Homo sapiens: one gene and its partner. The protein of the gene in region 2 binds, or shares a complex with, the protein of the main gene of each other region. Each region holds a gene or a part of one and is shown on either strand. Other genes may lie near its edges. A codon is read from its position in the direction of its gene.

Region 1 (8,181 bases), on a different chromosome or scaffold from region 2:
ATATGAACAGACACTTCTCAAAAGACAACATTCATGCAGCCAACAAACATATGAAAAAACCTCATAATCACTGGTCATTAGAGAAATGCAAATCAAAACCGCAATGAGATACCATCTCATGCCAGTTAGAATGGTGATCATTAAAAAGTCAGGAAACAACAGATGCTGAAGAGGATGTGGAGAAATAGGAACGCTTTTACACTGTTGGTGGGAGTATAAATTAGTTCAACATTGTGGAAGACAGTGTGGCGATTCCTCAAGGATCTAGAACTAGAAATACCATTTGACCCAGCAATTCCCTTACTGGGTATATACCCAAAGGATTATAAATCATTCTACTATAAAGACACATGCACACATATGTTTATTGTGGCACTATTCACAATAGCAAAGACTTGGAACCAACCCAAATGTCCACCAATGATGGACTGGAAAAGGAAACTGTGGCACATATACACCATGGAATACTATGCAGGCATAATAAAGGATGAGTTCATGTCCTTTGCAGGGACATGGATGAAGCTGGAAATCATCATTCTCAGCAAACTAACACAACAACAGAAAACCAAACACTGCATGTTCTCACTCATAAGTGGGTATTGAACAATGAGAACACATGGACACAGGGAGGGGAACATCACACACTGGAGCCTGTTGGGGGTGGGGGGCTAGGGGAGAGATAGCATTAGGAGAAATACCTAATGTAGGTGACGGATTGACGGGTGCAGCAAACCACCATGGCACGTGTATACCTATGTAACAAACCTGCACATTCTGCACATGTGCCCCAGAACTTAAAGTAAAATAATAATAATAATAATAATAATAATAATAAAAGATGGAGGTGGTGGATGGGTGAAGCATTTTCTCTGTAGTGTAGGGAATTCTCACAGGTATGTAGCTCCTTAATCCTCACAATGAAAGAGGCAAATATCATTATTTCATTTTACAGATGAGGACACTGAGGTTCAAGGAAGTTAAAAGAACTTGCCTAAAGTCACATAGCTTAGAACTGGCAATATCAAGGCTGAACCTAAGTGTCTGTTCCAAGGCTCAGTCATGTTCCACTAATTTTGAATGTTGGCAAACGAGGAGAGAGAGATATTGGGACCTAGGATGAAGGGAAGAAAGAGTTTTTGGTAGAGAAAACACATAAACATTTATGTAAGTTGAAAGTAAAGAGTCCTCAGAAGCTAAGAACTGAAAGTACAAGGGAGAATAAGAATAATTGAGCCAAGTCTCAGAAAGTTTGGAGGAAGCAGCATGCTGACCTGGGCAAGAGTTTGCCTTGGAAAGGAGTAAAGTTGCTTTTATTTCTGAAACAGGTGGGAAGGAGGTAAGGGTGGGTAAAGTTGCTATTAAGCTGGAGCTTGGAGAGGAGGGAAATTGAGATGGTCATACTATTTCCTCCTTGAAATAAGAGGCTAGTTATTCTCCTGTGAATAGACAAGTAAGGGAAAGCCTGGATTTTTACCAGTGACTGGGTCAGGGGAGGGAAGAGGGGAGAAAAGGGAGTTGGAAAGTGACTGGAGCAATTAGGAAAGAGAGTAAGGCTCAGGCTTGTAATCCCAGCACTTTGAGAGTCCAAGGTGGGAGGACTGCTTGAGCGCAGGAGTTCAAGATCACCCTGGGCAACAAAGTGAGACTCCTGTCTATACAAAAAATAAAAATAATAATTATCAGGACATGGTGACTGGTGCCTGTAGTCCCAGCTGCTTGGGAGGCTGAAGTAGGCGGATCCTTTGAGGGCGGGAGATCAAGGCTGCAGTGAGCTATGATTTCGCCACTGCACTCCAGCCTGGATGACAGAGCAGAGCCAGACCCTGTCTCAGTTGAAAAAAAGAAAAAAAAAAAGGAAAGGGAAAAGAGTAGAGTTGCAATATTTAGCAGATAAAAAATATAGCTCATGGCTGGGCTCGGTGGCTCATGCTTGTAATCCCAGCACCTTGGGAGGCCAAGGCAGGTGGATCGCCTGAAGTCAGGAGTTCGAGACCAGCCTGGACAACATGGTGAAACCCCATCTCTACTAAAAATACAAAACTAGCTGGGTGTGGTGGTGCATGCCTGTAATCCCAGCTATTCAGGAGGCTGAGGTAGGAGAATTGCTTGAACCTGGGAGGCGGAGGTTGCGGTGAGCTGAGATCACGCCACTGGACTCCAGCCTGGGCAATAGAGTGAGATTCTGTCTCAAAAAAAAAAAAAAAAAAAAAAGATAGCTCACACAGTTACATTTGAATGGCACATTTATGACAAATTTTTGTTTAGTGTATGCTCCAAAGATTGTGTGGTATTTTATCTGTAAACTTTTAAAGAGAAACACTAAAGCATGTGTAAAGAACAACAAAGCCACTTTGAAATCAAAAATTGGAAATGGAGCAAACTTAAGGTAGGAATGTTGGGCTTGACTTCTAGGCAGCAGCAGACAGGGAGTTGTACTGGCAGTCAGGAGATAGCTTGAGAATGCAATTTTTAGGGCCTCCTTGGAGAGCAATGGGAAGAGACTTATATGGGAACTAGAGACTTGGAATTGGCCAGGACGCCATTGCTGGAAACATTTGCCTACTATCTAATTTTACCTAAGTTGATCATCTACAATTACATCTCATAGGTGTGTACTAAAGATGAATATTATTAAATAACAATCTGAAAGGTTTTTGGACTCTGTAAAACACTTTATCAATATTGAATGTTAAAAACCAGTGGTATTCACAAGAAAACAACTGATATCCCCAAGGAAATTCTTGAACCTGTTTGAGGTTTATCATGGTGGTCTGGAGTAGTGGTTAAGAGTCTGCAGCCTGTCCCACATTAAGCAAGCTGCTTAATATGTCTGGGAGTCAATTTCCTTGTTTGTAAAATTAGAATAATTATAGTGCCTAACTTGTCAGATTAAATGGATTAATATGTGTAACACTATGTGCAAATACTAAAAGTACAATGTTACATGAGATATCATAGGCAGACAATGAGAAGTTTCAGAAAACATTCATTAATATGCATATGTATACACTTTGTATGCTTACGTAGAAAATGAGTGGTTTTAAAAGGACATTCATTAGCATACTTTTATATGCATTTTGTAGACTTGTACAGTCAGAAATGCAGCAAATGTAAAACTTTAAATCTAGAAGTCTGTTTCCCTCTAGGAACATATATTTCAATTCCTTAACTATTTATTGACTGATAGCGTTTGAGCCACAAGGCAAGGCATTTGCAATATTTAGGTTTTGGAACCCAGCTCTGCCACTCACTAGCTGGGAAATCTACAAGTCACCTTAGTTGTCTGAATGACACTTCTCTCAACAATAAAATGGCCAGCAATGCTTACTTACTTCACAGAGCAGTAAGGTTAAATTAACCTAGCACATGCTTGATACAGACTAGGTGTGAAATTTCACTTTGATTCCTTTGGCTTTAAAGAATGCATAAATTAGTGTGGGTGGAGGCGGGAGAAGGGGGGGAATGCCAAGTCCCCCGTTTTGTTGTGCTGGGTAGACACAATATACCTCTTCCCCTTTAAGTGAAATAAGTCTTCAAATCCAATTAGGATCTACTCTGGAGTCTTAGAGGACCGTTATCTTGGTTTCCACATTATATGCACTGTACTGTTGTTGAAGCTGTGGGTATGTATTGGGTGCGTCGCTGTCGATGAATGCTTTAAAACAGCTGTGAATTAACTGTCACTTCTTTTTTTTTTTTTTTTGGCAAACTCACAAAATCCCAGAAGTCAGGGGTCTGTTGTTTGTTCATTCTGCCTCCTTCTGAGTCATTCAGGTACAGGGTGTGTCTGCCAATTGAAACTGCACAGCGGAGGAAGTTTTTGAGTTCACATCTGCCGGGATGGGAACGCAGTGCGACCAGGGACTGGGTGGAAACTTTTACAACAGTAATGCAAGGGCAGAAGCGTCCTGTCCTGAGCTTGTCACGCAGGCAGATCTGACCAAGTCCGCCTCTCAGCCTCACGTTCTTAAGTAGCATCTAAGCAAAAGAAAAGGGTGGGCAAAGTGCTAGTAATGAGATTTGAGGCCTCTGAGTCGACTCCCAAGCAGAATGTGAGAGAAGGGTGCCGGCTCCTGCTGGGCAGCTGCAGTTGCTCCGCAGCTCCTGGCCGAGAATCTCCCCCTTTGGAAATTCCTGAGCTGCCCAGGCGTTTTGAATCTCTCAGGACTCAGCAGCAGCCCACCCCCTCAACGACCTCTCCATTGGCCAGAATCTGGGACACACAGCCTGACTTTGTGCTCAGCTGAGGGAAACCCCTCGCCCAACACCAAAACCGGCGCTGGTTCATTTCTCTGTGCACTCTGGGAAAGCCACTGCCCCTCAGACCGCAGTTGCGAGTAGCACGAGGATCTGGGGTGGCGGGGGGAGTACAGGAACCTCCCGGTTCATTCTCCCTCCCGGGCTGCTTGTCTCCTCCGTACCTCTCGCAGCCCCTTCCCAGCCTCTCCTCCCCAGAGCGCCGCCGACACTCGCCGGGCCGCGGCTCAGGTTTTCTGCTGCTCGCGCGAAAGTGGCTCGGGGAGCTCCTGGCCACAAGCTCAGCACACCGATCCTCCTAGGGCTGCGGGGGGTGTGGGACCAGGGCGGTGCGCTACGAGACTCCGGGCCGTCCTCTGCCTCCTCAGACTTTTCGAGAGAAAAGTTTTCAAAGTCTCTCCACCTTTTTTTTTTTTCAGGGGCTCGGGAGAATCCTCTCCACAGCCAGGGATCAGCGTCTATCTGGGCGAGGGCAGTGATTTATACAGTAGAATCCAGGGGTTACCGGGCTCCGCCCCTTCTCTCTCTCTCTTTTTTTCTTTCATTTGTTGTTTGGGGAGGAGGGGTTCTTTTTTTTTTTTTTTTTTTTTTTTTTGCTTCTGCCCCAGATCTTTCCTGGACAGTGCGTCTCAGCAGTTCAGATCCGGGGGCCCCCAGCTGACAGAGGGCGTGGGGGGTTAAGGCATTAACCCCTCCCAGCCTCTTCCTGAAGAAACCACCCAGCCTTGGCGCGGCGCTGGGTGACTTCGCGTAGCAGGCAGGGAACTGGCCGCGGCGAGCGGGACTGGCCATTGGAGTGCTCCGCTGCGGAGGGAGGGGACCCCGACTCGAGTAAGTTTGCGAGAGCACTACGCAGTCAGTCGGGGGCAGCAGCAAGATGCGAAGCGAGCCGTACAGATCCCGGGCTCTCCGAACGCAACTTCGCCCTGCTTGAGCGAGGTAGGGGGCGGCGAATGGCGGGGGTCGCGGGCGCGGGGAGCCCGGTTGTGGTAGGGCTTAGGTGTCAGAAACGAATTTTTAAGTCGAACGAGGCAAACAAAAACTTAGAAAACATGCATCTCCGGGCGCTGAAAATTTGCATCTCTGGGCTACTAAGGAGCCCATCTCGATCAGATTGTTCTTGGGCACTTGTGATTTATGGAGTTCAGAAAAAAGGTTAATTCCCAACTGTGGAACCTACGGGTGTAGGGGCAGTGAAAATTGCAGTTGGTCGGAGGAATAGGAGGGAAGGCGTTAAATTTTGGAAATCCTATAGACAAAGAATATGGTGGGTGGTGTGGAGCGTGGGTAATGGCTTAAATTAGTACTGCCCAGGAGCAGGGTATAAAATTAGTTGGGGGAAAATGCGGAGCTTCTTGGCTTGAGCAGCCTCTGCTGTTCGCGGAGTTGCTGGGATTGTTCTCATCTCTATTACCTCATTTTATTGCATTGCTGCATTACCTTGAAATATTTAAGCAACTTAGAAGTAGACTTCTGCTGACCAGTGCCGTCTTAGAAAGTTTCTTTGTAACTTTCTAGTCCTAGGAGAGGAGTCAACGTGTTGGGGGACTGCAGTAAATAAAACTGCCCACGCAAATTTAGCAATGCACCAGGGAGCAGTTTAATGTGAGTTTCTGAAGAGTAGTTTTGCAATCGAAATTAGAAATGTGGTAGCATGTATTATGGCTGTCATGAGTAGTTTGATTTCTCTCTTTTGTGTATGTTTTGGCTAAACTAAACAAAGCAAAAAATATTTATGCAATCAACTAATGTACGAAACTTCTGGGATTTGCTGCAATCTGTTATGAATGGTTTTAACTGAATACCTTTAAATTTACTTGCCCTGGCTTGGGGTGGGGGGTGGGGTGGGGGGGCGCGGGGGGAGGCGGGGAGAATAAGAAGAAGAAAGAAAAGGCAGTCGCTTCACGGAGGCGCTAAGCTTTCCTGTTTACAGCAAGGCGGGGCGGGCCTGGCTGCCCACACCTCACTGCGCCCTCGGACCCTAAGCACACCTGCTCCTAGAGAGTTATTAATAGAGCCCCCAAATGGCTTACGCTTTCAAATGATTTTCCTGCAAATCTGATTTCTTGCATGGCACATGGCAATTAGGAGGTGGTGCTAGTATCTTTGAACTGGGGGGCTGGGGGTGGGCATGGGGGACAGAGGTGTGTGTCTTCGCCCTCAGACTGGCAGTTGAGTCTTTTCCGAGGAGAGACGTGGGCTGGTATTGAGCGTGCAGCTAAGCTGGTGACTGCTTCAGAGAATCTCATGGCTGGAAATCCGGGGGTGAGGGGGTGTGGGGTGGTGAGAGGGCAGGAGTGGAGTTAAAATGGGGTGTAGTTCTCTAGGTTTCCCATTCCTCCCACTCCTTGTTTTCCTTTTCATCATCTTTTTTTTTTTGTCAACCCACAGCCAACATCGTAATTCCCATTTCCCTTTGAGTGAATGTGGCCATAGAGTTTCTCCCTCTCTTTTTCTTCCCCCTCTTCCTTTTTTGAAAAAAGAAAAAAAAGGAAGAAAAAAGATAATTTGATTTTTAAAAAAAATCTCTCTCCCTGAGCTCTCCCCAAGTTTCTTTAAAACAAATCAACAACAACACAATTGGAGCAGTGCCTTAGCTAGAATGAATTATGCCAGTATGCTGTGGCTCTTTCCCTGACTCTCTCCTCTGACTTGTTTAAGGCTGCGGTTTCCGAGGCCCTCTCCAGCCAAGGAAAAGCTACACAAAAAGCCTGGATCACTCATCGAACCACCCCTGAAGCCAGTGAAGGCTCTCTCGCCTCGCCCTCTAGCGTTCGTCTGGAGTAGCGCCACCCCGGCTTCCTGGGGACACAGGGTTGGCACCATGGGGCCCACCAGCGTCCCGCTGGTCAAGGCCCACCGCAGCTCGGTCTCTGACTACGTCAACTATGATATCATCGTCCGGCATTACAACTACACGGGAAAGCTGAATATCAGCGCGGACAAGGAGAACAGCATTAAACTGACCTCGGTGGTGTTCATTCTCATCTGCTGCTTTATCATCCTGGAGAACATCTTTGTCTTGCTGACCATTTGGAAAACCAAGAAATTCCACCGACCCATGTACTATTTTATTGGCAATCTGGCCCTCTCAGACCTGTTGGCAGGAGTAGCCTACACAGCTAACCTGCTCTTGTCTGGGGCCACCACCTACAAGCTCACTCCCGCCCAGTGGTTTCTGCGGGAAGGGAGTATGTTTGTGGCCCTGTCAGCCTCCGTGTTCAGTCTCCTCGCCATCGCCATTGAGCGCTATATCACAATGCTGAAAATGAAACTCCACAACGGGAGCAATAACTTCCGCCTCTTCCTGCTAATCAGCGCCTGCTGGGTCATCTCCCTCATCCTGGGTGGCCTGCCTATCATGGGCTGGAACTGCATCAGTGCGCTGTCCAGCTGCTCCACCGTGCTGCCGCTCTACCACAAGCACTATATCCTCTTCTGCACCACGGTCTTCACTCTGCTTCTGCTCTCCATCGTCATTCTGTACTGCAGAATCTACTCCTTGGTCAGGACTCGGAGCCGCCGCCTGACGTTCCGCAAGAACATTTCCAAGGCCAGCCGCAGCTCTGAGAAGTCGCTGGCGCTGCTCAAGACCGTAATTATCGTCCTGAGCGTCTTCATCGCCTGCTGGGCACCGCTCTTCATCCTGCTCCTGCTGGATGTGGGCTGCAAGGTGAAGACCTGTGACATCCTCTTCAGAGCGGAGTACTTCCTGGTGTTAGCTGTGCTCAACTCCGGCACCAACCCCATCATTTACACTCTGACCAACAAGGAGATGCGTCGGGCCTTCATCCGGATCATGTCCTGCTGCAAGTGCCCGAGCGGAGACTCTGCTGGCAAATTCAAGCGACCCATCATCGCCGGCATGGAATTCAGCCGCAGCAAATCGGACAATTCCTCCCACCCCCAGAAAGACGAAGGGGA
Region 2 (6,197 bases):
TTTTACTTTGTTTCACCATTGTACAGAGGGTAAATGAAATAACTTTCGCTGAATATTTGGTCTATAATACTGTTACATTTCCTCTATTATTTTAACATCTTTTGAAAAATTCAAATTTTTACTGTTCATTCACATATCATTTTAAATTGAGGTTTAGTTCACATACGATGAATGCACAGCTCGTAGGTATACAGTTTAACGACTTATGACAGTGGTATAACCACAAGACCAGCAACATTTGAATCTTTCCATCACCCTAGACAGTTTGCCCTGTGTCCCATTCCAGTTAAATTACCTTTCCTACACACACAAAGGCAACTACTGTTCTGATTTTTGACACCAGAGCTTAGACCAACTATTATTTAAAGTCATGTAAATGCAAATATGTAGTATACAATCTTCTGTGGCTGGATTTTTTTTCACTCAACATTTTTTTTGGAGATTCCTTCATTTTGTTGCATGTATCAGTTGTCTTATTTTGAATTGCTGAGCGGAATTCCCTTGTATGGATATACCATAATTTGTTCACTTATTTTCCTGTTGGTGGATATTTGGATTATTTCTGGAATTTGGCTCTTAAGAATAAAGCTGCTAGGAGCATTCTTGCACAAGGCATTTTGAGAACATATTTTCATTTTTCTTGAGGATATACATAGGAGTAGGTTTGTTGGGCCATAGAAAAGGCATATATTTAATTTTATAAGAAACAGTTTCCAAAGTGTTTTTCCAATTTACTCTCCCACCAATAATATCTGAAAATTCCAGTTGCTCCACATCTGCAGCAACTTCACCAAAAAATACTGTCACGTTTAAAATTTTGTTCAGTCATTTTAATGTCAGATATTTATATAGCAATTCAATATTTTACTTTATGATATTATCCATATTTATCCCATTCACATCATTTCTCTCAAACAGTAACTACAAGGAGATTAAGGAATTATGCTAGAATTTTTTATTTATTTATTTATTTATTTTTTTAGACAAGGTCTCACTCTGTCACTCAGGTTAGAGTGCAGTGGTGCAATCTCCGCTCACAGCAACCTCTGCCTCCCAGGCTAAAGCGATCCTCCCACTTCAGACTCCCAAGTAGCTGGGAACACAAGTGCGTGCCACCATGACCAGCTAATTTTTTGTATTTTTGGTGGAGACAGGGTTTCACCATGTTGCTCATGATGGTCTTGAACTCCTGAGCTCAGGTGATCAATCCACTCACCTCGGCCTCCCAAAATGCTGAGATTACAGGTGTGAGCCACCATGCCCTAGAATTTTTTTATGTGTCTTCTGGGGCATGTGCATATTTAATAAACGTTCTTATCATCATTAAAACAAACTGATTATATACTTAGAATTTTCATAGTTACTAAGTGTATAAATCATATGTGTCAGGTAAATATTTTGGGGAGACACTTTATAATCTCATCATTATGCTTGAATTGTTTCATTTCAAGCCAACAATAAACTATTCAAATTCACTCAAAATTGGGGGTAAATTAACTTAGAAATTTCTATAAAGAGACGGGGAAATTTCATATAATGAGATAGGAAATATTAAGTTTAAATGCCTCAAAAGAATGTTGCATATTCCTATAGTACTTCTATAGTCTGCCTGAACTCATCATCAACTTTCTCCCTTCCAGATGATGCCACCAGTCCCCATTTCTCAACACGTCATGAAGGGTCCTTCCAAGTTCCTGTCCTGTGTGCTGTAATGAATGTGGTCTTCATCACCATTTTAATCATAGCTCTCATTGCCTTATCAGGTGGGTCTACACTTCATCAATTCTTTCAAAGCCTCCTAGCTGTAAGCATTCATGCCCAGCTGAAATCAATATTAGTTTAGTCTAGTTAATCAGAAACTAGCTAATTCAGAATCATCCCATGTACCATATATGGCCAATTTCCTAATCAATACTAAACATAATTCCACAATCCTTGAATAATTAATGTAATACTTTTATAAGTATTAAAAGTATCTATGATTTATATATTACTGTAGAATAAAATTGCATTTGAAAAGATGTTTACATCTAGAATGAAGGGAGCTGATTTGAATTCTGAATAAATACCTATTTAGCTAGAAAAAAATGTGAACTTCACATTCATTGATTATGGAAAAAAATCGTATCTAAAGCCATAGATTAATCAGGAAGTGGCCAGTCTTTTGTGTTTTATCTCAAAGGACACAGAATGGTAGTTCTGAATAATTAAGATTATATTTAAAAGTTCCCAGAGAGTCAGTAGTGATTTGGTATTCAATACCTCCAGCTGTACCAAGATATATTTGTATCTTTTACAAATGGGAATGTTTACCATTGTTTTGAGATATTCTGAGTCATATGTCTTTCTGTATTTTGAATTGGTTCCCTAAAAGTTAGTTACTCTCTCCATCTTTCCAGCCTAGTGCTATAAATACTGCATCTTCAAATTCTTCCGCCTCTGCATTCAGATTCAAAACCTTATTTGAAATGTATAATGCACTTTATCCTTTCTAGTCCAAAGAAATATCTAGTCCAAATTTTCAGAATTGTTCTATATTTCTGTCATTTTCTGACATTATGACCAAAAGTACATCCCCTCATCCTCATATCTCCATCCAATGATGATTAGGCACAATGGAAGATCAGATATGGTCCTGAGAACTTTCTTTCTTCATACCCTTTTCAGAATTCTACTTTTTAGCTTTTATCCTTTACTTTATCACCACCTAGCACAACATAGCATCCTAAGGCTAGTTTTGCATGCTGTGGGTATTTGGTTTCTTTTGTTACTAAAACAAAGCATTTTTCTGTTCACAGTGGGCCAATACAATTGTCCAGGCCAATACACATTCTCAATGCCATCAGACAGCCATGTTTCTTCATGCTCTGAGGACTGGGTTGGCTACCAGAGGAAATGCTACTTTATTTCTACTGTGAAGAGGAGCTGGACTTCAGCCCAAAATGCTTGTTCTGAACATGGTGCTACTCTTGCTGTCATTGATTCTGAAAAGGACATGGTAAGAATAAAAAAAAGATAAAATACTACTATTTTAATTCATATGGCTAATCAGTGCTTTCCTTCCGTTTCTAAGTGGAGAAAACAAACAAACAAACAAACATTGTACCTATTTCAGATGTAGGAAAATGTCATCCCAGAGAACCATATGATCAGCCTGAGGTCAAAATGAGATTTAATTTAATCTTTTAAATTTGATTTGATTGCTTAGCTTCAAAGACCAGAAATCCAAATATGCTGATCCTATATAGAATGAGTACATGGTCAGATAAGCTGTCATGCCTCAAGTTGCAGCTTTTGAGAAACAGGATTTACTATCTACTTCCCCAGAAGGGTGTTTAATGTAACAAACTCCTTTGTGCTTTCTTTAAGAACTTTCTAAAACGATACGCAGGTAGAGAGGAACACTGGGTTGGACTGAAAAAGGAACCTGGTCACCCATGGAAGTGGTCAAATGGCAAAGAATTTAACAACTGGTAAGTCTCCAGAAGTCTCTTTATATTCCCCAGGGTGGCATCTCAGGAAAATCACTTTCCTTTTCTCCTTTCAAAGCACTTTAAATATAAAGGCTGAGCTCTTCAAGAGCTCTAACAATCTCTTCTGAATGCGTATACTCTGGAATTCTTTAATAACAGGCTTTATTATTATTCTTTTTCTTTATCCACACTTATAATACATAAAATAAATGCTTATAGTAATTTTTCTCAGCAAACTCTAATGTGAGTAGTAGATCTGGTTAATTTGGAAATATTTCAATAATAATTATGATGATGCAACAAAAACCCATTTTCAATGTCACATTTAGTCTTTACTAATAAGACAGTTGCTGGAAAATAAATCCTTCTTACTATTTCTCAGTTTTCATCTCCACAGAATAAAGAATAGTTTCAATGCCTAATTATGAGTTTCTATACACCTGAAAGAAAATTTGCCCCAGAATTAGATACTCTATTTTCATTACCTTTAGTTAAAATACATTTAATGTTTGAAGATCATTTTATAAGTTTGCTGTTGATCATAATACTGATAAAGTATCGAGATTAAAATTCAGGTTTCTAGAAAAGGGATTCCTAATATTTGTCCTATGGCTCCATATCCACAGATGGGCTTCAGGAGCCATAAACCCCTTAAAGCTGTATGCACTAGTATGCATGGCTGTTGAATGCATACAATTTTGTGAAATTATTTATTGAAAAATCTATGAACTCAGAAATGACCAAGAATCACTTATCTGGTGCCATGCCAACCAAATGAATGGCGTGCTTTCCTCTTACTTCCATATTTTTTCTCCACATCCTATTTTTTTTTCAATTCTTGTCCATTGTCTCTACAGATTAGTCTATGATTATTTGACTTGTGTATCCCACTAAGAATTTAAAAGAAGCAGAGGTCACCATCTCCGAGTTCATTCTCATGTAACTGAATGAAAACAATGAGCTGAAAATAATTCTAAGTTTTTTTATTGTTTGACAGGTTCAACGTTACAGGGTCTGACAAGTGTGTTTTTCTGAAAAACACAGAGGTCAGCAGCATGGAATGTGAGAAGAATTTATACTGGATATGTAACAAACCTTACAAATAATAAGGAAACATGTTCACTTATTGACTATTATAGAATGGAACTCAAGGAAATCTGTGTCAGTGGATGCTGCTCTGTGGTCCGAAGTCTTCCATAGAGACTTTGTGAAAAAAAATTTTATAGTGTCTTGGGAATTTTCTTCCAAACAGAACTATGGAAAAAAAGGAAGAAATTCCAGGAAAATCTGCACTGTGGGCTTTTATTGCCATGAGCTAGAAGCATCACAGGTTGACCAATAACCATGCCCAAGAATGAGAAGAATGACTATGCAACCTTTGGATGCACTTTATATTATTTTGAATCCAGAAATAATGAAATAACTAGGCGTGGACTTACTATTTATTGCTGAATGACTACCAACAGTGAGAGCCCTTCATGCATTTGCACTATTGGAAGGAGTTAGATGTTGGTACTAGATACTGAATGTAAACAAAGGAATTATGGCTGGTAACATAGGTTTTTAGTCTAATTGAATCCCTTAAACTCAGGGAGCATTTATAAATGGACAAATGCTTATGAAACTAAGATTTGTAATATTTCTCTCTTTTTAGAGAAATTTGCCAATTTACTTTGTTATTTTTCCCCAAAAAGAATGGGATGATCATGTATTTATTTTTTTACTTCCTCAGCTGTAGACAGGTCCTTTTCGATGGTACATATTTCTTTGCCTTTATAATCTTTTATACAGTGTCTTACAGAGAAAAGACATAAGCAAAGACTATGAGGAATATTTGCAAGACATAGAATAGTGTTGGAAAATGTGCAATATGTGATGTGGCAAATCTCTATTAGGAAATATTCTGTAATCTTCAGACCTAGAATAATACTAGTCTTATAATAGGTTTGTGACTTTCCTAAATCAATTCTATTACGTGCAATACTTCAATACTTCATTTAAAATATTTTTATGTGCAATAAAATGTATTTGTTTGTATTTTGTGTTCAGTACAATTATAAGCTGTTTTTATATATGTGAAATAAAAGTAGAATAAACACAATGGTTTCCAAGAAAGTTCATTCCTTCAAAATACATTAAAAAGTATATACTATATGAGAAAGCAGAAAACAGTTACTATAACTTAGGAAAAAATCCCATGTAGAGTAAAACCCTTAGTTTTATAATAGCTTATACATATCAAATTGTTTTCATATGCTTATATGCTAAAGGGTGTATGTATCCATATCCATTTTTCTGTATATAGCAGATGCTCTGTAATAATTACTCCTCATAGTCAATGCTCTGAAAGTATCTTGTTCAATTCTGAGGTGCTACATACACTTTAGTTATTTATGTAAAATAATTCAATATATAGAAAAGAGGCATAATCTTCATGGGATATTTCAATCAGCAAAAAACTCAATGATGTAGTTTGGATGTGTGTCCCTGCCCAAATCTCATGTCGCATTGTAATCCCCTTTGTTGGAGGTGGGGCCTGGTGGGAGGTGATTACATCATGGGAGCGAATCTCTCATGAATGGTTTAGCATCATCCTCTTGATGGTCTCCTTGCACCTGAGTGAGTTCTCAGGAGATCTGGTCTTTTCAAAGTGTGCAGCACTTTCTCTCTCTCTCTCTCTCTTTCTCTCTCTCTTTCCTGCTTTCTCCATGTGACATGCCTGCT

Evidence for each region.
Region 1: the proteins of CD69 (region 2) and S1PR1 are in contact, whole or in part, in a cryo-EM structure (PDB 8G94), measured with the Homo sapiens proteins. Residues at the interface, in NP_001772.1 of Homo sapiens: Val41 (codon at 1,697), Ala44 (codon at 1,706), Val45 (codon at 1,709), Val48 (codon at 1,718), Val49 (codon at 1,721), Thr52 (codon at 1,730), Ile53 (codon at 1,733), Ile56 (codon at 1,742), Ile59 (codon at 1,751), Ala60 (codon at 1,754), Val63 (codon at 1,763); in NP_001307659.1 of Homo sapiens: Asn157, Leu160, Phe161, Ile164, Ser165, Trp168, Val169, Leu172, Ile173, Gly176, Ile179, Met180, Gly181.

Annotation. Positions count from the first base shown.
Region 1 is NC_000001.11:101,231,904-101,240,084, forward strand, and holds the start of S1PR1 (sphingosine 1-phosphate receptor 1), read left to right. Parts: upstream 1-5,115; 5' UTR 5,116-5,196; intron 5,197-6,918; 5' UTR 6,919-7,081; coding exon 7,082-8,181.
Region 2 is NC_000012.12:9,751,863-9,758,059, reverse strand, and holds the end of CD69 (early activation antigen CD69), read left to right. Parts: intron 1-1,640; coding exon 1,641-1,763; intron 1,764-2,798; coding exon 2,799-2,998; intron 2,999-3,369; coding exon 3,370-3,473; intron 3,474-4,470; coding exon 4,471-4,579; 3' UTR 4,580-5,574; downstream 5,575-6,197. UniProt on the Homo sapiens protein: Transmembrane protein expressed mainly on T-cells resident in mucosa that plays an essential role in immune cell homeostasis.